Linked DNA regions of Homo sapiens: regions 1 and 3 are each reported to be linked to region 2. Evidence: microRNA targets listed by miRTarBase, many of them from high-throughput screens and not tested one by one. Region 2 holds a microRNA gene; each other region holds the end of a gene's coding sequence.

The links. The annotated mature microRNA hsa-miR-7152-5p reads UUUCCUGUCCUCCAACCAGACC and lies in region 2 at 4,180-4,201, shown strand. An mRNA with a match to its seed (bases 2 to 7 or 8) in the 3' UTR can be bound and repressed. Matches are read on the target gene's strand: a 7mer-m8 pairs with bases 2 to 8, a 7mer-A1 pairs with bases 2 to 7 and ends in A, and an 8mer does both.
Region 1: the mRNA of TENT5A is a reported target of hsa-miR-7152-5p. Seed matches in the 3' UTR shown: 8mer at 5,919-5,926 and 7mer-A1 at 4,026-4,032.
Region 3: miRTarBase lists MAGT1 as a target of hsa-miR-7152-5p. Seed matches in the 3' UTR shown: 7mer-m8 at 4,078-4,084.

What each region holds. Positions count from the first base shown.
Region 1 is chr6:81,743,298-81,750,596 of GRCh38, forward strand. It overlaps TENT5A (terminal nucleotidyltransferase 5A), which reads right to left. Exons shown (of 3, transcript NM_017633.3): 3 at 2,433-7,174. The coding sequence ends at 6,398. Among named protein-coding and RNA genes, the nearest start is that of TENT5A, 5.7 kb to the right of the region's middle.
Region 2 is chr10:71,786,568-71,793,567 of GRCh38, forward strand. It overlaps MIR7152 (microRNA 7152), which reads left to right and starts at 4,180; the gene lies at 4,180-4,233. It overlaps CDH23 (cadherin related 23), which reads left to right. Exons shown (of 70, transcript NM_022124.6): 45 at 2,373-2,475; 46 at 3,721-3,846; 47 at 4,565-4,768; 48 at 6,615-7,000. RefSeq lists an enhancer at 3,721-4,620.
Region 3 is chrX:77,822,732-77,830,016 of GRCh38, reverse strand. MAGT1 (magnesium transporter 1) reads left to right here. Exons shown (of 10, transcript NM_001367916.1): 10 at 782-4,270. The coding sequence ends at 797. Among named protein-coding and RNA genes, the nearest start is that of ATRX, 40 kb to the right of the region's middle.

The DNA of each region.
Region 1 (7,299 bases), not on the chromosome of region 2:
CTGGGATTACAGGCATGAGCCACCATGCCCGGCCAGTCTTCATTTTTAAATAAACTTTTTATGTGAGAATACTTTTATTTTTAAAAAGTGATGATATAGAAAGTTCCTATATACCCCATACCCAGTTTCTCCTTTTGTCGACATCATACTACATGTTACAACTAATGAGCTGATATTGAACCATTATTATTTCAATAATGCTTGCTTCAGATTTCCTTAGATTTTACCAAGTGCTCTTTTCTGTTGCCAGACCCCACCAGGATCCCACATTACACTTAAGTCATATGTCTCTTTAGGCTCCTCTTGGCAATGGCAGTTTTCACACTTTCTTTGTTTTAATAATTTAAGGAATACTGGTCCAGTATTTTACAGAATGCCCCACAATTTAGTTTTGGATGATGCTGTTCTCAAGATTTGGCAGGTTTTAGAGTGTTGAGGAAAAAACCACAGAGGTGAAGTGCCATTCTTATCACATCACAACAAGGGCACATACTATCATCATGACTTGTCACTACTTATGTTGGCCTTGATCAGCTGGCTGAGGTAGTGTTTGTTCGGTTTTTGCAATGGTACAGTACTCTTCTTTTTCCCTTTTCCAGATTGTAATCTTTGGACATAAGTCACTATGCACAGCCTACACTTAAGAGGTGGGTAGTTAACCTCCACCTCCTTGAAGGGCCAATATCTACATTGATTATTTGGAATCCTGCACAGTAAATTTCTTTCCCTCCATTTGTTCATTCAATCATTTATTTATATCAGTGTGAATGCATGGATACTTTACTCGTTGTGTTATAATCCATTACTATTTATTTTGTTGCTTAAATTGTTCCAGCTTTGGCTATTGGAGCTCTTTCAGTTAGCTCCTATGTCCCTTTGACATACCCCTGCCACCCTCATCATTATGATTTTTATCTTTTTTTTATGCTTTCTCAAGGCACCACAAGATGCTTCAGGCTTCTCTTATATATTTCCTGCTCCAGACATAGATTCAACTTCTAGTTCCTTTTATTGGAGAATGGCATTAGAAACCAAGATCTGAGTCATGCTAGGTAAAAGCCACTGTCATTTTAAAATCATTTCTCCTCCCTCGGTCCTACGTGATGTATTTGCTATTAGACTGAAGGATACTGTGTTCATATTGTTGATCTCAAACTTGGTCCTTTAAAGAAAATTAGAGTTTAATTTTGGAATTACTTGATTTTAACAAACCTTATTCTACTTTATATTTAAAAACTATGATATTAATTTATTTTTCTTTTTTGGTATATTTTGTTCTTTCTTTTTCTTACTAAAGGAATTAGAAGTTTAGGGAATGAGGTTACTAAGGAAAGGAAGGGTGGATTACTTCTCTCCAGGCTCAGCTAGGAGGGGCAGCCTAGTAATTCAACTAGAAATGGCAGGGTATATCTAAGCCTAGGAGAAGTTTAATATATACTGCTCTTATTCAACCATTGTTTAAAAATAATTATGTGGTGACCACAGACATATGAGGAACTGGCTGTAGAATGAAGAGGCTGCAACAAAGGAAGAAGAAAATGACACACAAATACCATTATCAAACCAAATAACCACCTTGTATTTTTATGATGCACTGTATACGGGAAGGAAGCTGGTTTTCAATGCCAAGAGTTGCTCTTTCACAGACTCGGTGTCAAGCATGCATTCTATTCAAGATCAAGACTTTAAGTGGTTTTTACAACCACATGTATATCCTATAGTAGCCTGGGCTTACCAAATTCTCATACTACTAGCATTGAGACCATCTCCAAAATTACACTAAGAAAAATTTTAATTAATACATAAATGTATGCCCCCTAGCAATTTGAATAGGTGAGGTTACATTAAATGCTAGACAAAAGGGTGATTTCCTTGCACCCAACACACACACACACACACACACACACACACACACACACAGAACATACTAGATCTTTTGATTGCTCTTCCTTCTCTATACTTCCTCTTTCAATTCCTGGCCACCAATTCCTCTCACCCCAACGTAAAAACTCTGAATAACACTATAGAGCCTCGAACAGAATCTATATAACCACTGATGAAATCACAGCCCTAAGGCTACTCAGGAAGACCAAGGCTCACGCAGAGCTACTAGAGCCCTACAGCCTACTAGAGCCATGAGTCTCTACTGATATCGGAAAACAGTTCTGACTTCTGGTCACTTAACACTGCTAAATTGATACCCAGACAAAAAAATTGTTGGCATCTATTAGCTAGATGCTTTTGGAGCTAACTGAGCCAGTCAGAGATGGGCTGACTGACAGCTGGATGTTTTCATTTATTGTGCTTCAATCAGAAAGTGGCTGAAGGCTACTCTTCTCTATGTACCGCTCTGCCTTTTCTAAAGGACGTGGGTTGGGATTCAAAGGACATGGTCTTTAGTCAATACAGACATTGTAGACAGCAAACACAAATCAATAGAAAAAAATAACTTTTTTATTTACAAAAAAATCCAAATATTGGATGCTGTAAACAAAATTCACAATCTGTTCCCTCTAGCACTGATTCAAACATGTCAGTTTTTTAGTCCATTTTCCATCAACTCCTTTTCTGCCTGTGACGCAGCCTATAGTCAAAATATTCCAAAAGAGTGACCCAAGGTGCAGCTTGCTGCAACAGAACACCTCAAAGCAGGCATGATTGTAGAGAGGTTGGAGGGAGAGACAGCCAGCAGGCAGAGCCTCCTCCGTTCTGCAAGGCTTTGCAGCAAGTCTCGTTAACTTGACATCTTCCAACTTTGTACTTTACCATTTGCTTTGTTAGAAAGCCATTATTTTAACAAAATATAACATAGAGATTCTTTCTTAGCACTGAAAATGCTATGCTAAAAGAAATTTTAAAGAAAGATTATATTCAAATAGATGCTATATATGAAATTACTTTTTTTGGCTTTTTGGTTTCACCTAACACACTTCATCTTCAACAACAACAAAAAAGCTTATTTTTGAACTGACAGCTTTCAACATAATACATTTCATTTACAAAATAGTTCACAATATTTATTTAACAAGCGTTGCATTGAAAACAACTTTATGCACAGTGAAGCAACCAACAATAAGCAAACAGAAAGGGGTGGTAAAAACAGTACGTTCACTTTTCATTTCCTTCCTTGGTTTGGATTACACATATTCTTCCATCCTTGCATTTTTGGAGCTACATTATTAGTCCATCCAATACCAAAGTGAGCAGATACTTGATCCCATTTCTGGAAAGGAAATGTCCATCTTGGTGTAGGAGTTCTTGAGGCAGCTGGATTTACTGCAAATTAAGTAAACCTTTAAAAACGGCATTGTCACAGGCTATGTGTTCTCTGACATGCCAGGCTGGACAGGTGAGAAGAGCCTCCAAAAGACAAAACTTCTTCCTGGTTTAAAGAAACAGCACACTAGGCCAGATAAACACAAAAGGAAACAAATCACAGGCGCTAATAGGGAGTCGGGAGCTGTTCTTTTCTCTGACCTATACACATGGCTCTCTCTCACCAGACATTCAAATTTTTAGGCCGCACATCCACAAAGAGAGACATATATTTCACTGTGTGTTCAACTACATATGCACAAGACTATAGTACACACAAAATAGAAATAAATTATATAAGTCTTAAAGTAAATGCTAGAAGTTGTCTTGAGTACAGCCTGTTCTATATGAATAGGTGCCAGGTGCTGGCACTTCCAACTAAGCTACCAACCCTGAAGTAAGCAAGAAAAGAATATAAATATTTAAGAAAATAAATCAAAGTGTATTTCAAATAAGGCTCTTCCAAACAAAAATCTGTGTTATAAATTAACAGCAGGTTATTGTTATGGCAGAGTCAGAGACCTCCAGACTCTTTAAAATAGTAGACGACTCATTTGTCAAGAGTTAGGGTAAGAAAGCAGATCACCAGCTGCTCCTGTGTTCACAAGTGCTCCCCTAGTTTTCTTTCAGAAAACTTTGAAACAACTAAGCAGGCGGAGCTCTGGTTTCTGATAGGTGAGTGCCAGGCTTAATCTGCAAACTGAACAATGTTTCCTGGGAAGTTGCAATTAATTTTTCAAACCCAGGGCTTAAGTGAGGGAGACTGAGCCAAGATGGTAGTAGGAGGAGTTCCTTAGAAAACTGAGTGGCAGTGCAGCGGCTGTTGCAGCTCTGACAGAATTCACAAGGAAGCTGCTACAGCAAACCCATCAGGTTCCCATTAAGGCTTCAAAGAAAGATGCACAAAAGGTAGTCCAGACGGATTAACCTGGATTAACCTAGCACTAAGCATCTGAGGATCCCTAGATAAACAAACAAACAAATTATACTGCCAACAGGAGGATATTTTTTTCTCCCGTGGTCTCTCTTTAACTGATGATGAAAATCTTCTAATTGGGTCTTCGAGGAATTATCATAGCAAGCAGTCATCCACTAAGGTTGTGGAGATTATGTGGTTGTTTCACAACACAAAGGGAAGGTTCTTATGTGTTAGTTTTGTTTTGTTTTTAACAAATGCATTTTCAGAGACCAGTATCTAGAGGAACTACTGGCTAGGAGAAAGGGTGGTTTTAGGATTAGCTGTTATTGAACTGAAATAGTAATGCCAGTTCATTTCACAAAGGTATAACTGGTATTTTTGTAAGAAAGAAAATAAAGTTGGATTTGATTTAATGGAAAGCGATTTAAAGTACAGTACTAAATATTTAAATGCAGTGTGACAACCAGATCAAAGATGTTTCATATTGACATGATTTATAAAATGTTATATATAATATATATCTCATATATAAATTTTAAGCAATTGTGCAAATATTCTGTAAAAAGGGTCATTTCACATTACTAAATTCTAGTGGTCCAGAAATGCAGAATGCATTCATTAAAATTCATTTAAACATTAGCAAGTAGTGTTTAGATCACCGGAAATCCTTTTTAGCAGTCAGGGATTTAAGTAGCCTATTACTGATCCATGATCCACTAGATTAAACATCATAGAGGAATGCAATTTTTTTTTTAATAAATGGGTTCCAACTGTCAAAATGGCAGTTCAATATAAAAAAGAGTGCTCTGCCAAACAAATATTCTCCCATTTGTGGAATTTTATGGCTCACCAAAGAAAAAAAAAAAAAGAAAAAAAAATCCCACTAAAACAGTATAATTTCTGCTCTTCCTATGAAATATATTACTTGGTTCCCTCCTTCATTTAATTTTTTTAGATGTGGATTTAATTCATCATTGCAATATGCCCACGTCTCATGTTATCCTGTTGAAAACATAAAAACACACAGTATTTAAACATTTCCTATTTGAGACATTATTCTAGATCATAGTCAATCTACTGTGTATATATACATATAAAATGTATATATAAAATGTATATATACACACACACATATAATTTATACACACATACACATGTACCTATGATAATATCAGATCAACAAATGTTAACTTTATACAAGTATTTGCAAGAAAAAATAGGGCATTTTCTCCACCATTCACAAGCTTATGTTATTTTCTTCTTGAGGCAGTCCCTGATAAAATAAAATAATCATTAAACCATAAAATAATTTTGCCACTTCAAATTTTCAGAAGGCAACAGGCACTTTGATGTATATTGGTGTGTAACAAATATAATCTCTCTTCATATAGTCTACTATATCTCTTCTAATTGGGTATTTTTATCTGTTAAATCTTTGGTCCTTGAGCACACTTTCTTTGTTACAGCTGTTTTTGCTTGCATTTTTACATTTTAAAAATGTGATCTATGCACGCAGCTGGAATTAATGGATTGTGTCATCATAAGTTCTGCTGATTGTTACGAGAACTGCACCAACCTACTACTGTTCATTTGGAGCAAGCCGTTTGTTAGCAAAACAAGATCATTCCACAGAAAGCACTTGCTACAAGCCTCAGACAGTAATCCCAACGTTGGAGTTCCCCTTTTTCCTGTATTGTTACTATTAATATCTGAACTCCTAAACTGATTCACAAGTTGGAGTGAGACCTTTTTTCCTCCGTATTTTCCCTTTTATGAATTCCATCTTAAAAGAAACTTTCCACTTTTTTTTTTCCTATGGCAAAGCTATGGGAGCAGATACAGCAAACCCATATTGTCATCACACATTTCTTCTCTTGTATCAGGAGAACCTGGTTGCTTCTAATGACAGGTCTCTCTTTTTTTGCAGGATAGAATCCAATTGGGTAGGAGAATAAGAGAAGGGAAAAGGATCCTTTCGAGATCATGCTCCCACATCTATTAAAAGATACATAAGCTTTGCCAAACTTAAAACCAGGAGCATATCATCATTGCACAAAACACATCCCTAATAAGGGCTGGATCACTCTTTTTTTTTTCTTTTTTTTTTTTTTCTCTCCTGTCTTGTCTGAAATGGCTTCCCCACAGGACATTTTTAAATGATTCTTAATTGCAGGGTAGCCAAGTGGAGTAGGTCTGTTGCTGGCACGTGAATACTGGCTGAACCTGTGCAATGTAGTAATTGCTAAAGTTGGCATCTGCTACATAGGGGGCTGGCTGGTAATAGCAAGTGACATTAGCCACATTAGGAATGACATTTTGGTCAGCTAACACCCGGATAGCCAGCATGGTGATAAGGTTTAAAGTCTGTCTTCTTTCATGTCCCATCAGGCACACTGTGCTCTCATTTACCACTCCATGAAGGGTCATGAGATACTCATACTTGCGGTCTTCCAATCCCACAAAGTGGTTCTGCAAATAGGACTCCAGTTTTCTCTGCTGCTCTCCAATGTCTGAGAAGTCGATGAAAAACCTGGAACACATATACCTTTGAAGGGTCTTGATTTCATCAGAGGCGGGCCTAAAGCCCCTCACCAAGAGGTTGCAGTACTTAAGCAGGCCTCCCCCTCGGATTTCCTCTGGGTTCCTGGTGGCAATGATCTTGTTACAAAGGTGATCAAAGGCTTCCTGGAAATCGCCATAGACGCTCTCCCCGATTATTGTGGGGTGAAATGTCTCAGTCATTGGGTTCTCTGAACATTCATAAAAGAGCAGAAGAGAGTCTAATTTGATTTGAAAAGAATCTACACTGAATTCAAACTGCCTCCGGAGGGAATCCACAAATTTCAGTTCCACATTTTTGCCACTGTTGTTTGACAGGGATATAAGACTCCATCGGTCAGAGTCATTGCACACTTTAACCATTTTCTGCACATAAGCTTCCTACAATTTAAAAGATAAAACAAAATGAGCAAACCTAGAAAATAATAAATCAATAAATAAATACATCCTCTTCACAGCTGAGAATTATTTTGCTCTTTCCCTTTTGTTTTGTCAAGTTTCAGCCA
Region 2 (7,000 bases):
GCTCACTGCAACCTCCACCTCCCAGGTTCAAGCGATTCTTGTGCCTCAGTCTCCCGAGTAGCTAGGATTACATGCACACGCCACCTTGCCCGGCTAATTTTTGTATTTTTAGCAGAGATGGGATTTCACCATGTTGGCGAGGCTTGTCTCAAACTCCTGACCTCAAGCAATCCACCTGCCTCAGCCTCCCAAAGTGCTGGGATTACAGGTGTGAGCCACCATGCCCAGCTTCTACTCCCTCATTTTTGCCCCCACTTTTTCTCTTTTCTGCTCTCATTTTTCCTCTCCCTTGCCTGGCTTCAGGAGGGCCCCGGGTAAAAGCAGCATTGAGTGGCAGGACTCGGTGGGCTTAGGGGCTAAGCCCCACTCTGCTGCTAACTCACCACTTGGCTCTGAATGGGCACTCCCCATCTCTGCACCTTGGTTCCCTTGTCTCTGAGGTGGTGACAGTGCACAGGGGTACTGGAGGTTCTGAGGTTTGCGAGTGTGAAGTGAGGCACTGGCAGAGTTTGAATGAACTCCAGCCAGGGCAACAGGAAGGCCTTGAAGGTCGAGAAACAGGACTCATCTTCCCGCCTGAAGTGAGATGGAACAGGATTCAATCCCATTTGCCACACCTCCGTGAAGGAGTTAAATCCCTATTTGCCAGACTAGAAAACTGAGACCCAGACAGGGGAAATGAGGCACCCAAGATCACCCAGAATAGGGTCTTCAACCCAGGTCTTTGAACCCTGGTGTGGGCGCTTTTCAGATTTTTTTTTTTTTTTTTTTTTTAGATTCAGGGAGTACAAGCACAGGTTTCTTAACATGTCCATATTGTGTAGTGGTGAAGACTGGGCTTTTAGTGTACCCATCAGGTGTACCCAAAACTACCTATTATGTCCAATGTTCACTGAACTGTGAACTCACTGCCACTCACTGAACAGTGAACATTGTACCTAATAAATAATTTTTCAACCCTCACCCTCTTCCCATCCTCCCACCCTTCTGAGTCTCCAATGACTCTTATTCCATTCTGTATATCCATGGTTACACATTATTTAGCTCCCACTTATAAGTGAAAATATGCAATATTTGACTTTCTATTTCTGAGTCATTTCACTTAGGATAATGGCCTTCAGTTCCATCCATGTTGCTGCAAAAGACACGACTTCACTCTTTCTTACGGTTGAGTAGTATTCCATGGTCTATATACCACATTTTCTTTAGTCAGTCCTCTGTGGATGGACACTTACATTGATTCCATATCTTTGCTATTGTGAATAGTGTGGCGATAAACATGTGAGTGTAAGTATCTTTTTGATATAACGATGTATTTCCCTTTGGGCAGGTACCCAGTAGAGGGGTATTGTGGGATTGAAGGGTAATTCTGTCTTTAGTTCTTTGAGAAATCTCCATATTGCTTGCCACAGTGGCTGAAGGAATTTACATTCCCACCAGCAGTGTATGAGCATTCCCTTTTCTCTGCATCCTCACCAGTGTCTGTTGTTTTTTTCTTGAGATGGTGTCTTGCTCTCTTGCCCAGGCTGGAGTACAGTGGCACAATCTCGGCTCACTGCAATCTCTGCCTCCTGGGTTCAAGCGATTCTCCTGTCTCAACTTCCCAAGTAGCTGGGATTACAGGTGTAAGCCATCATGCCCAGCTAATTTTTTTGTATTTTAAGTAGAGACAGGGTTTCACCATATTGGCCAGGCTGGTCTCGAACTCCTGACCTTAAGTGATCCGCCCACCTCAGACTCCCAAAGTGCTGGGATTACAGGCGTGAGCCACCATGCCCAGCATGTTGTTTTTTGACTTTTTAATAATAGCCGTTCTGACTGGTGTGAGAGGGTACCTCACTGTGGCTTATTGCATTTCTCTGATGATTAGCAACACTAAGCATTTTTTCTTTTTTTCTTTTTTTTTGAGATGGAGTCTTGCTCTGTCATCTGGGCTGGAGTGCAGTGGCGTGATATCCGCTCGCTGCAAGCTCCGCCTCCTGGGTTCATGCCATTCTCCTGCCTCAGCCTCCCAAGTAGCTGGGACTACAGGTGCGTGCCACCACGCCCAGCTAATTTTTTGTGCTTTTAGTAGAGACGGGGTTTCACCATGTTAGCCAGGATGGTCTCGATCTCCTGACCTCGTGATCTGCCCGTCTTGGCCTCCCAAAGTGCTGGGATTACAGGCATGAGCCACTGCACCCGGCCACATTTTTTCATGTTTGTTGCCCTCTTGTATGTCTTCTTTTGAAAAATGTGAGTTCATGTTGGTGTGGGCTTTTCTGATCATCCACCTCTGTGCCCCAATCCCCAACCTCCCAACCCTCCTCCCACCTAGGTGGGGGCACTTTGCTGAGCATGGCCTACAACGTGCCCCATTCTGCCCCTTGCAGGATTATGACTTGCTTCTGATCTTCCTTTCTGATGAGAATGACAACCACCCCCTCTTCACTAAAAGCACCTACCAGGCAGAGGTGATGGAAAACTCTCCCGCTGGTAGGTGCTGGGCCCACCCGGGAGCTCCTGCTGTTGCCAGGCACCACTGGGGCCTGGGATGCCTGAGGACCTCCCTTATGCCTAACGGCATAGCTGAACCTAGACCCCAGTGGGTGCGGGAGGGGAAGGATGGGTGCAGCTCCGGGAGATGGTGGGCTGGGGCTCCCGGGCCTCCTATGAGCACAAAGAAGCCACAGGTCTGGTTGGAAGAGACAGTCGTGGTCATTGTTCCCCAGGGTGGTCTGAGAGCTGCCCCACCATCCCTCAAGAAGGGCATGTAAGGTGTGAGGACTACCCCGGAGGGGAGTGGGTCCACCCCTCACTGCTCCCTCCACCCCAGGAGTGCAGGGCATCCCAGGGCCTTCTGGAAGCCCTGGGGAGCATCTATAACTAGAAGTGGGAGGTCAGGGGGTCCTGGGTAGGCCAGTGTAGCCCTCTCCCCACACACATGCACTGACCAGGCTCACCTCCCTCCAGAGGGACAGAATCTCCTCTGTGATGTCCCCTGAGGTGGCACCTGCACTCCTCCAGTCTCCCCAGCCCCTGTTCCTCATCTCTGGCTGGGCATCCCCCCTAGGTGAATTTCATTCTTAAACCTGTCTGTGTGTATGCTCACACATGTGCCCGTGTGTGTCCATACCAAGGCATGTGCGTGGGGTTACACATGTGCACAGACACATATAGGTACATGGGTGCCCACTGATGCGCTCGTGTGCAGACATGCCCACCTGCAGAGGCACACGAGTGCACAACCAGGGAATCCCAGGCCTGTGCGTGCTCCTGGACAAGTGCCTGTGGCCATGTGAACACAGAACTTGATGCACACATGAGTGGGTTTTTCTAGTCATGTATGGCCAGGCCCCCAAAGGCAGAGCATTGTGTGAACACATGTGTTGACAGGCGAGACCCACACATGGGGAGGGGATGTCAGGGAGCCCCAGACCCTCCCGAGGAGCGGCCAGCCTCAAAGGCTGCTGGGAAGGCAGATGTGGCTCTGGGCAGCCGGGGCCTTGCTCACCACTCTCATGTTTTCTCCCCAGCAGGGCTTTGAGGCCGCTCCCCAGGCATCTGCGTTCAGTCTGCCAAGGCTGCCGCAGGCCCGCCCCCAGGGCCTCCCCACCCTGTCCACCTCACCTCCCTCCCCTCTCATCCATCGTCAGCCATGGCTCACCGGGACAGGGCAGGGGAGGTGGGAGGGCAGGGGGCTGGGTTGGTCTTGTGGTGACCCCTCTCCTTCTGGCCCAGGCACCCCTCTCACGGTGCTCAATGGGCCCATCCTGGCCCTGGATGCAGACCAAGACATCTACGCCGTGGTGACCTACCAGCTGCTGGGTGCCCAGAGTGGCCTCTTTGACATCAACAGCAGCACCGGTGAGGCCTCTGTGCCACCCAGCACTCCCAGCCTGATTCTGGGGTGGGGATGGCCACACTGCTGGATTGAGGGCCTCCCTTCTCAGTGCTGGACCCAGGCTGTCCGTGGAGACCCCATTTTTCACAGCCCAGAGTCCCCATCTTGCAGCTGGGTTATATCACCCAGTGGCCTGGCAGGGGGACGTGGGAAGAGGCTTGGAGACGATACACAGGACCTCTGTTGGTGCACGAACTCTCAGCCTGGGCCGGGAGCCCCCCAGCCCACTCCCGTCATCTCCCCATGCGCAGGCCAGAGGCTCAGGCCCCTAGTCCAGCAGAAGTAGCCAGAGCGACTTTCCTGTCCTCCAACCAGACCATGCCACATCCGTCTGGTCCTGGACAGGAGGCCGCTTTGGTGACAGGTGCCGACAGGAAAGCACATCTGTCAACAGAGACGGTCAACCCTGTGCCCTGGGTCACTCTTCCCAGGCAAGAGTCTTGAAGACAGCAGAGGGCACCTGCAGAGGGGACAACCACAGGAAATGCATGGGGCCCTCCCTCAGCACGGGTGGTTGAGCCTGTGGGGGAGAAAGTCATTTTGTTACTGCCTCTGCTCCTCTTTCATCTCTGTCCCATGGTGCCCCTGTCTTTCTCTGCTCTCTCCCTGTTGGTTCTTGCCCTGTCTTCCCACCGCACCCCTTTTCTGTGTGTTTCCCTGGCTGGCGGCACCGGGTGCCAGGTGTGGTGACCGTGAGGTCAGGTGTCATCATTGACCGGGAGGCATTCTCGCCACCCATCCTGGAGCTGCTGCTGCTGGCTGAGGACATCGGGCTGCTCAACAGCACGGCCCACCTGCTCATCACCATCCTGGATGACAATGACAACCGGCCCACCTTTAGCCCTGCCACCCTCACTGTCCATCTGCTAGAGAACTGCCCGCCTGGTAAGCAGGGGACAGGCCCCAGCACCCCACAACCAGGGGCCGGTTGGTGGTCACAGGGGACTGGAGCCTCAGGTTGGACACGGAGTTTGCCTCCAGTGGGGAGAAAGATGGGCAGCAGGGTGAGTGTAGAACACACTGGAGAGGGAGTCAGGAGACCTGGGCCCCTGCTTCCCTCCTCTGAGCTTCTGTATCTTGCCTGCAAAACAAGATTCTTTTTTCCTTTCTTTCTTTTTCTTTTCTTTTCTTTTTTTTTTTTTAAGACGGAGTTTTGCTCTTGTTGCCCAGGCTGGAGTGCAATGGCACAATCTCGGCTCACTGCAACCTCAGCCTCCCAGGTTCAAGTGATTCTCCTGCCTCAGCCTCCCGAGTAGCTGGGATTACAGGCGCCCACCACCACACCCAGCTAATTTTTGTATTTTTAGTAGAGACGGGGTTTCACCCTGTTGGCCAGGCTGGTCGCAAACTCCTGACCTCAGGTGATCCACTCGCCTCAGCCTCCCAAAGTGCTGGGATTACAGGTGTGAGCCACCACGCCTGGCCTACAAGATTCCTAAGTATTCTCCATTTGAATTCCCAGATGGAAAGACTGACTATTTTAAAGTCAAAATAGGATCAACATGATTCCCATCAAAATCAAATATAACTTCTGGAAGAATAAGAAAATTTTGAAAAACATAAGTATAATAAGCCAGATTTGGCTTACCAGATTTTATAACATATTATAAAGCTACAGTATTTAAGGCCATGCAATATGGGCACAAGACTCCAGGACAAAGTAGCCCAGAAACAGATACTGGTAAATTAAAGAATAAAATATGATGTGATAAAGGAAGCAATGAGGCCAATGGGGAAGCTACTTATTCAGTGTGCAAAAACCTATTTAATCTAATCAATTACATCCAATTATTATAATCTGTATGTAATCTAATATAATAATAATGTAATATTTAGTGTAGATTCTCCCCCATGTCAGACACCAAAATAAAAACCAAAAGAAAATATTAAAAAGTAGAAAACACTAAACAATAAATGAAGAAAACTTAGGTGAATAACTCATTTCTGGGTAAGAAGGTTCTAAGCATAAAAGAAAAGAACTTAAGAGGAAAAATATTAAATTTCTATGCATGCTAATTTAAACCTTGTTACATCAAATAATTATAGCCAATATTGAAAGGCAAACAACAAACCAAAAAGTATATTTGTCTTGGTCCAGGCGAGGTGGCTCACGCCTGTAATCCCAGCAATTTGGGAGGCTGAGGCAGGTGGATCACTTGAGGTCTGGAGTTCCAGACCAGCCTGACATGGAGAAACCCTTTCTCTACTAAAAATACAAAAAATTAGCCAGGCATGGTAGTGGGTGCCTGTAATCCCAGCTACTCAGGAGTCTGCTGCATAAGAATCACTTGAACCTGGGAAGCAGAGGTTGCAGTAAGCCGAGATCACACCACTGCACTCCAGCCTAGGTGACAGTGTAAGACTCCATCTAAAAAAAAAAAAAAAAAAAAAAAAAAAAAAAAATATATATATATATATATATATATGTCTCAAGTTGTCATAATTATGTGACTTGTATAATTGACAGAAAAATGGACAAAAGACAAAAGCAGACCATTTGCAGAAGATACAACTAATTATTACATTATAAAATATTGTTTAATCAAAGAATATAAAATAAAATAACATGCCATTTTCCTATAAAATTGCAAGTATGAAAAAGGTATAAAAGAAAATGCTGTCAAGGCTGTCATGAGAAGGGGACTTGAGAAGATCACCAACAAATGTGTCTTGGTAGATCTTTCTGGAAGAGGCCACTGTGCGCAGCTACTCCCTTTTCCCTCTCCAACAGGATTCTCAGTCCTTCAAGTCACAGCCACAGATGAGGACAGTGGCCTCAATGGGGAGCTGGTCTACCGAATAGAAGCTGGGGCTCAGGACCGCTTCCTCATTCATCTGGTCACCGGGGTCATCCGTGTTGGTAATGCCACCATCGACAGAGAGGAGCAGGAGTCCTACAGGCTAACGGTGGTGGCCACCGACCGGGGCACCGTTCCTCTCTCGGGCACAGCCATTGTCACCATTCTGATCGATGACATCAATGACTCCCGCCCCGAGTTCCTCAACCCCATCCAGACAGTGAGCGTGCTGGAGTCGGCTGAGCCAGGCACTGTCATTGCCAATATCACGGCCATTGACCACGACCTCAACCCAAAGCTAGAGTACCACATTGTCGGC
Region 3 (7,285 bases), not on the chromosome of region 2:
CCCATATAAAAATTAATTATAGTATAATGGACAATATTAGTATGTGATTTCTCAGGAACATCTTTTAGATTTATTTTGCCATACCTAATTTATTCTAGAAATCTCATATGTATTCTAGAAATACATAATGATTAGAACATTTTATGCCATTATCTATTCACATAGCTCCTTGTCTGCATATTATACTTCCTTTTGAAGAAGAAATGATTTTTTTTAATGTTAAAAACTTCTTCTCGCCTCTACTTTTTTTTAAGAAATAGAGTGCCACTGCACTCCAGTCTGAGTAATAGAGTGAGACCCCATCTCAAAAATAATAATTATAATAATTTATCCTCTACAGAATACTAATTGAGATGTGAAGGTAATTTTGCTGGGACTTCTGTTAATTATTTGATCAGCAGAGTTGATTCAATAGCAGTGTCATGTGCCTGTAGTCCCAGCTACTCAGAAGGCTAAGACAGAATGATCACTTGAGCGTGGGAGTCCCAGACCAGACTGGGCAACACAGTGAGACCCCATCTCTAAAAAAATGAAAAAATAAAATTATTAATTAGTGTCTCTATTCAGGAGATATTTTAACTTGAGGTTATTCTATTTCCTTTTGTCATAAGACTAACGGGTCTCTCAGTGTTTCTCACTTTTTGTTATTGATACCCAAAGATTATCATGTACGTACCAAAATGCTCTTTTATCTGTTAAAACCAACATACTGCTTATTGATTAAAAGTAAATCCTACTTTTCTTTCAGAGACTAATAGATTGGAATATATTTTTGTTTCAGCTTTCTGATGAGTTAAAAAGGTCCCAGAGATATATAGACACTGGAGTACTGGAAATTGAAAAACGAAAATCGTGTGTGTTTGAAAAGAAGAATGCAACTTGTATATTTTGTATTACCTCTTTTTTTCAAGTGATTTAAATAGTTAATCATTTAACCAAAGAAGATGTGTAGTGCCTTAACAAGCAATCCTCTGTCAAAATCTGAGGTATTTGAAAATAATTATCCTCTTAACCTTCTCTTCCCAGTGAACTTTATGGAACATTTAATTTAGTACAATTAAGTATATTATAAAAATTGTAAAACTACTACTTTGTTTTAGTTAGAACAAAGCTCAAAACTACTTTAGTTAACTTGGTCATCTGATTTTATATTGCCTTATCCAAAGATGGGGAAAGTAAGTCCTGACCAGGTGTTCCCACATATGCCTGTTACAGATAACTACATTAGGAATTCATTCTTAGCTTCTTCATCTTTGTGTGGATGTGTATACTTTACGCATCTTTCCTTTTGAGTAGAGAAATTATGTGTGTCATGTGGTCTTCTGAAAATGGAACACCATTCTTCAGAGCACACGTCTAGCCCTCAGCAAGACAGTTGTTTCTCCTCCTCCTTGCATATTTCCTACTGAAATACAGTGCTGTCTATGATTGTTTTTGTTTTGTTGTTTTTTTGAGACGGTCTCGCTGTGTCACACAGGCTGGAGTGCAGTGGCGTGAGCTCGGCTGACTGCAAACTCTGCCTCCCAGGTTTAAGCGATTCTCCTGTCACAGCTTCCCAAGTAGCTGGGATTTACAGGTGTGCACCGCCATGCCAGGCTAATTTTTGTGTTTTTAGTAGAGACAGGGTTTCGCCAAGTTGTCCAGGCTGGTCTTGAACTCCTGGGCTCAAGTGATCCGCCCGCCTCAGTCTCCCAAAGTGCGAGGATGACATGTGTGAGCTACCACACCAGCAATGTCTATGCTTCTCGATAGCTGTGAACATGAAAAGACATCTATTGGGAGTCCGAGGCAGGTGGATTGCTTGAGGCCAGGAGTTAGAGACCAGCCTGGCCAACAAGGCAAAACCCCGTCTCTACTAAAAATATGAAAATTAGCTGGGCTTGGTGGCTCATGCCTATAATCCTAGCTACTTGGGAGGCTGAGGCACGAGACTTGCTTAATACCTGGGAGGCGGAGATTGCAGTGAGCCGAGATCACGCTACTGCGCTCCAGCCTGAGTGATAGAGTGAGACTCTGTCTCAAAAAAAAGTATCTCTAAATACAGGATTATAATTTCTGCTTGAGTATGGTGTTAACTACCTTGTATTTAGAAAGATTTCAGATTCATTCCATCTCCTTAGTTTTCTTTTAAGGTGACCCATCTGTGATAAAAATATAGCTTAGTGCTAAAATCAGTGTAACTTATACATGGCCTAAAATGTTTCTACAAATTAGAGTTTGTCACTTATTCCATTTGTACCTAAGAGAAAAATAGGCTCAGTTAGAAAAGGACTCCCTGGCCAGGCGCAGTGACTTACGCCTGTAATCTCAGCACTTTGGGAGGCCAAGGCAGGCAGATCACGAGGTCAGGAGTTCGAGACCATCCTGGCCAACATGGTGAAACCCCGTCTCTACTAAAAATATAAAAATTAGCTGGGTGTGGTGGCAGGAGCCTGTAATCCCAGCTACACAGGAGGCTGAGGCACGAGAATCACTTGAACTCAGGAGATGGAGGTTTCAGTGAGCCAAGATCACACCACTGCACTCCAGCCTGGCAACAGAGCGAGACTCCATCTCAAAAAAAAAAAAAAAAGTAAGAAAGAAAAGGACTCCCTTAGAATGGGAAAGAAAAATCATAAAATATTGAGCTGATGCCTGTATATAGAAATTAAGCGTTTCTCGAAAGCTGTTCTATGTTTTGCTGTTATTTTAGTCTTTATTCTCTTCCTTTAGGTGGAGAAACAAAGTACCAATTTGAAGGGATTTTTTTTATTTTGTCTTTTGGTTTCTGTCAGTAGAAATAACCATATGTGCTAACCAAATTTCTGTGAAGAATGTTTTCATGGTTATCATTATATCTAACTATAACCTCCCCCATAGTTATGAAGAGTAACCTGAAATGCCACTATTGTGGAAATAGGATAATTGTAATTGTGAAAAAATAATTTTAAGGAAATCTTACAAGTATTACATTAAAAAGATACTATGACTGCCACCTGCCATTTACCTTCTAATAACCCTGCCATGTGGTTTGCAGAAAGAGATGGATATAGTAGCCTCAGAAGAAATATTTTATGTGGGTTTTTTGTTTTTCGTTACTAGATTTCATGGATGAGGGGATATGGTTGACCTTTTACTTTTTAATGGAGCAGCCAGTTTTTGTTAATTACTCACTTGTAAATTGTGAGATTCTGAATTCCTTACCTGCTATTCTTGTACTTGTCTCAGGCCAAATCTATGCTGTGGTTCTTATGAGACTTGTATGAAGATGCCCTGATTTGTACAGATTGACCACGGGAATACTACTGCCATGTAATCTGTATAGTTCCAGATAATTTGTCATGAACATTGACAGAATGACAATTTTTTGTATTTGCTTTTTCTCCCTTTAAGAGCACATTCTTCTGTAAGGAGAAAGGCAGCATTCTGGCTAAAATGTGTAGAAGGTAATTTACTACACTTATAAAATAGTGTGACTTTTGTGAAAATTTTGAATTAGCTTTCATATGAAGTGCCTTAAGTAGACTCTTCATTTACTTTTCTGGTAATGGTTTAAATATCATTTGTTATGCATTTTTAAGATACAGTTCAGAATGACACATTGTAGTGGCAAAGATAACCAAATGTCTGGCTGTTTGCTTTTTGACCATATCAATAAACTTTTACAATCTAAATTCTGAGTTTTTGATTACCATCTAAAGAGGAGTGAGTTTTAAACACTAAACTAGAATTGTAAAATTAGGATTTTACATTTTGAAGTTATAATTAAATTAATTTAAATTTCATATTGTCCTAAGGACAGTTTGATGGGACAGTTTCTTTAAGTATTTCTGGATTGGGATATATTATTCTAGGAATCTATACATGGTCCCTCATTCTTAATGTTGTTACCCATTAGGTGAGTCAAAACAACCAAGATGAGTAGATAAATGACTGTTTGCAACAATTGATCTACCTTTCGTCCCAGACAGTGAACATTCCTTGACTAGGTAATTTCCTTTTGATAATAAAAACTTGATTTGAAAGTTACCCTGGCAGATTATAAGTTATATGAAACTAGACAGCAGCTCTTTTGCAAACATGGAGTAGAAACACTGCACAGGAAGTAAAGAGATCTGGCTTTTAGCCCTTGCTCTGTTTCTGTCTAACTATATGACCATAGGTGTCACCTGAACCTCTCTGAACATATTTCTTTATACTAAGTAAAGTGTATTAGGCTAAATTACCTTAGTAGTCCTTCCTGCTCTATTGTTCTATTATGCAAAATATTAAAGATGCACTTAAATTTGAATAGATAATATTTTTATATCCAGATTTGGTGCTGAATTAAAATCAATTGAAATGGAGGATATTCTGCAGTCAGATTTCTGAAGAAGCTAGGAAATGCTGGTGGAGGCCATTATAACTACAAATTGCTTAATATGCATTGAAATATTTTTTGGAAAGGATGCACTTGGAACTCTATTAGACCGTTATTGCATTGCTCTAAAGAAATACCTGAGATTGGGTACTTTATAAAGAAAAGAGGTTTAATTGGCTCACAGTTCTGCAGGGTGTACAGGAAACATGATGCTGGCATCTGCTCAGCTTTTGGGGAAGCTTCAGGAAACTTACAATCATGGTGGAAGGCAAAGGGGGAGCAAGCACATCACATGGCCAGAGCAGGAGCAAAAAGGTGAGGGGAGTTGGCAGACACTTTTCAATGACCAGATCTCGCGATAACTCACTATCACAAGGACAGTACCAAAGGGATGGTACTAAACCATTCATGAGAAACCTGCCCCCATCCAGTCATTTCCCACCAGGCCCCACCTCCATCATTGGGAATTACAATTGAACGTGAGATTTGGGTGGGGACAAAGATCCAAACCATATCGGAACCCATATGTTAATAAGATTTTTTTTTTTTTGAGACGCAGTCTCGCATTGTCACGCAGGCTGAAGTGCAGTGGGGCAATCTCGGCTCCCTGCAGCCTCCACCTCCCGAGTTCAAGCGATTCTCATGTCTCAGCCTCCCGAGTAGCTTGGACTACAGGCAAACACCACCCCACGCCTGGCTAATTCTTGTATTTTTAGTAGAGACGGTTTCACCATGTTGACAAGCCTGGTCTCAAACTCCTGACCTCGGGTGATCCACCTGTCTCGCCCTCCCAAAATGCTGGGATTACAGGAGTGAGCCACCGCGCCCAACCTCGAGGTCTTGATTTACATGGGTTCTGCCCAATTCTGAGCAAGAATGAGATCAGCAACTGTAATAGTATGCTGTTACAACAGAAAGTCAAAGCCAAAAGGATCTTAGATACCATTTAAATCAGCCCCTTCATTTTGACTGCTGAAGAAACCTGCCATAGAAAAGTGAAGCAATTTACTGAAGTTTATTCCAGGGAAGTACCTACAGGTTTCCTCTTTAGCTGCAAATTCCCTATGGATTACATTTCAAGTGTAGATGCAAATTACTCCCTTGACGCTTGGAAACCATACTGTAGTTCAAGCTTATCCAACCCTCAGCCCATGGGCCGCATGCAACCCAGGATGGCTTTGAATGCAGCCCAACACAAATTCATAAACTTAATTAAAACATTATGAGTTTTTTTCTGATTATTTTTTAGCCCATCAGCTATCATTAGTGTTAGGGTACTTAATGGGTAGCCCAAGACAATTCTTCCAATGTGGCCCAGGGAAGCCAGAAGATTGGACACCCCTGCTGTAGTTTGTGCTCACTAGGTTTGCTTCCTGACATCTAGATTGCCTGGAGAAGAGTCCTAATGAGAGAGAGATTTCCCTAGAGGAGCTGAGCAGACTTCCTAAAGAGGAAGGAGTTTAATCTACCTTTAATCTGTGAATGTAGAATTTAGGTGGGGAGACTGTATATTAGGGTTCTGTAGAGGAACAGAACTAATAGGATAGATGTGTATATGAAGGGGAGTTTAGGCTGGGCACAGTGGCTCACACCTATAATCCCAGCACTTTGGGAGGCCCAAGTGGGTGGATCACTTTGAGGCCAGGAGTTCAACACCAGCCTGGCCAACATGAAACCCTATCTCTACTAAAAATACAAAAATTAGCCGGGCATGGTGGCATGCACCTGTAATCCCAGGATTACAGGAGAGGCTGAGGCAGGAGAAATCGCTTGAACCCGGGGGGCGGAGATTGCAGTGAGCCAAGATTGAGCCATTGCACTCCAGCCTGGGCAGCAGAGCAAGACTCTGTCTCAAAAAAAAAAAAAAAAAAAAGAGTGGGGGAGTTTATTAAGGAATATTGACTCACACAATCAAAAGGCGAAGTCCCACAATAGACCATCTGCAAGCTGAGGAGGAGCAAGGAAGTCAGCCCATGTCCCAAAACCTCAAAAGTGGGGAAGCCAACAGTGCAGCCTTCGGTGTGGCCGAAGGCCCAACAGCTCCTGGCAAACCACTGGTGTAAGTCCAAGAGTCTAAAAGCTGAAGAACTTGGAGTCCAATGTTCCAGGGCAGGAAGCATCCAGCACGGGAGAAAGATGAAGGCCAGAAGACTCAGCAAGTGAAGTCTTTCCACGTTCCGCCTGCATTTATCCTAGCCATGCTGAGAGCAGATTAAATGGTGCCCACCCAGATTGAGGGTGGGTCTACCTCTCCCAGTCCACTGACTCAAATGTTAAATCTCCTTTGGCAACACCCTCACAGACACACTCAGGAACAATACTTTGCATCCTTCAATCCAATCAAGTTGACACTCAGTCATCACAGAGGGAGGTAGCTGGCAAGATGGCCAAATAGGAACAGCTCTGGTCTGCAGCTCCCAGCGAGATCAACGCAGAAGGCAGGTGATTCCTGCATTTCCAACTGAGCCTCCTCTAGTGATACCCAGGCAAGCAGGGTGTGGAGTGGACCTCCAGCAGACTCCAGCAGACCTGCAGCAGAGGGGCCTGACTGTTAGAAGGAAAACTAACAAACAGGAATAGTATCAACATCACCAACATCAAAGACCGAAGGTAGATAAATCCACGAAGATGGAGAGAAACCAGCGCAAAAAGGCTGAAAACTCCAAAAACCAGAACACCTCTTCTCTTCCAAAGGGTCACAACTCCTCACCAGCAAGGGAACAAAACTGGACGGAGAATGAGTTTGATGAATTGACAGAAGTAGGCTTCAGAAGGCAGGTAAAGACAAACTCCTCCGAGCTAAAGGAGCTTCATGTTGTATTTATGTTTAGAGAAGAACATAAATGACCTGATGGCGCTGAAAAACACAGCACAGGAACTTCATGAAGCATACACAAGTATCAATAGCCGAATCGATCAAGTGGAAGAAAGGATATCAGAGATTGA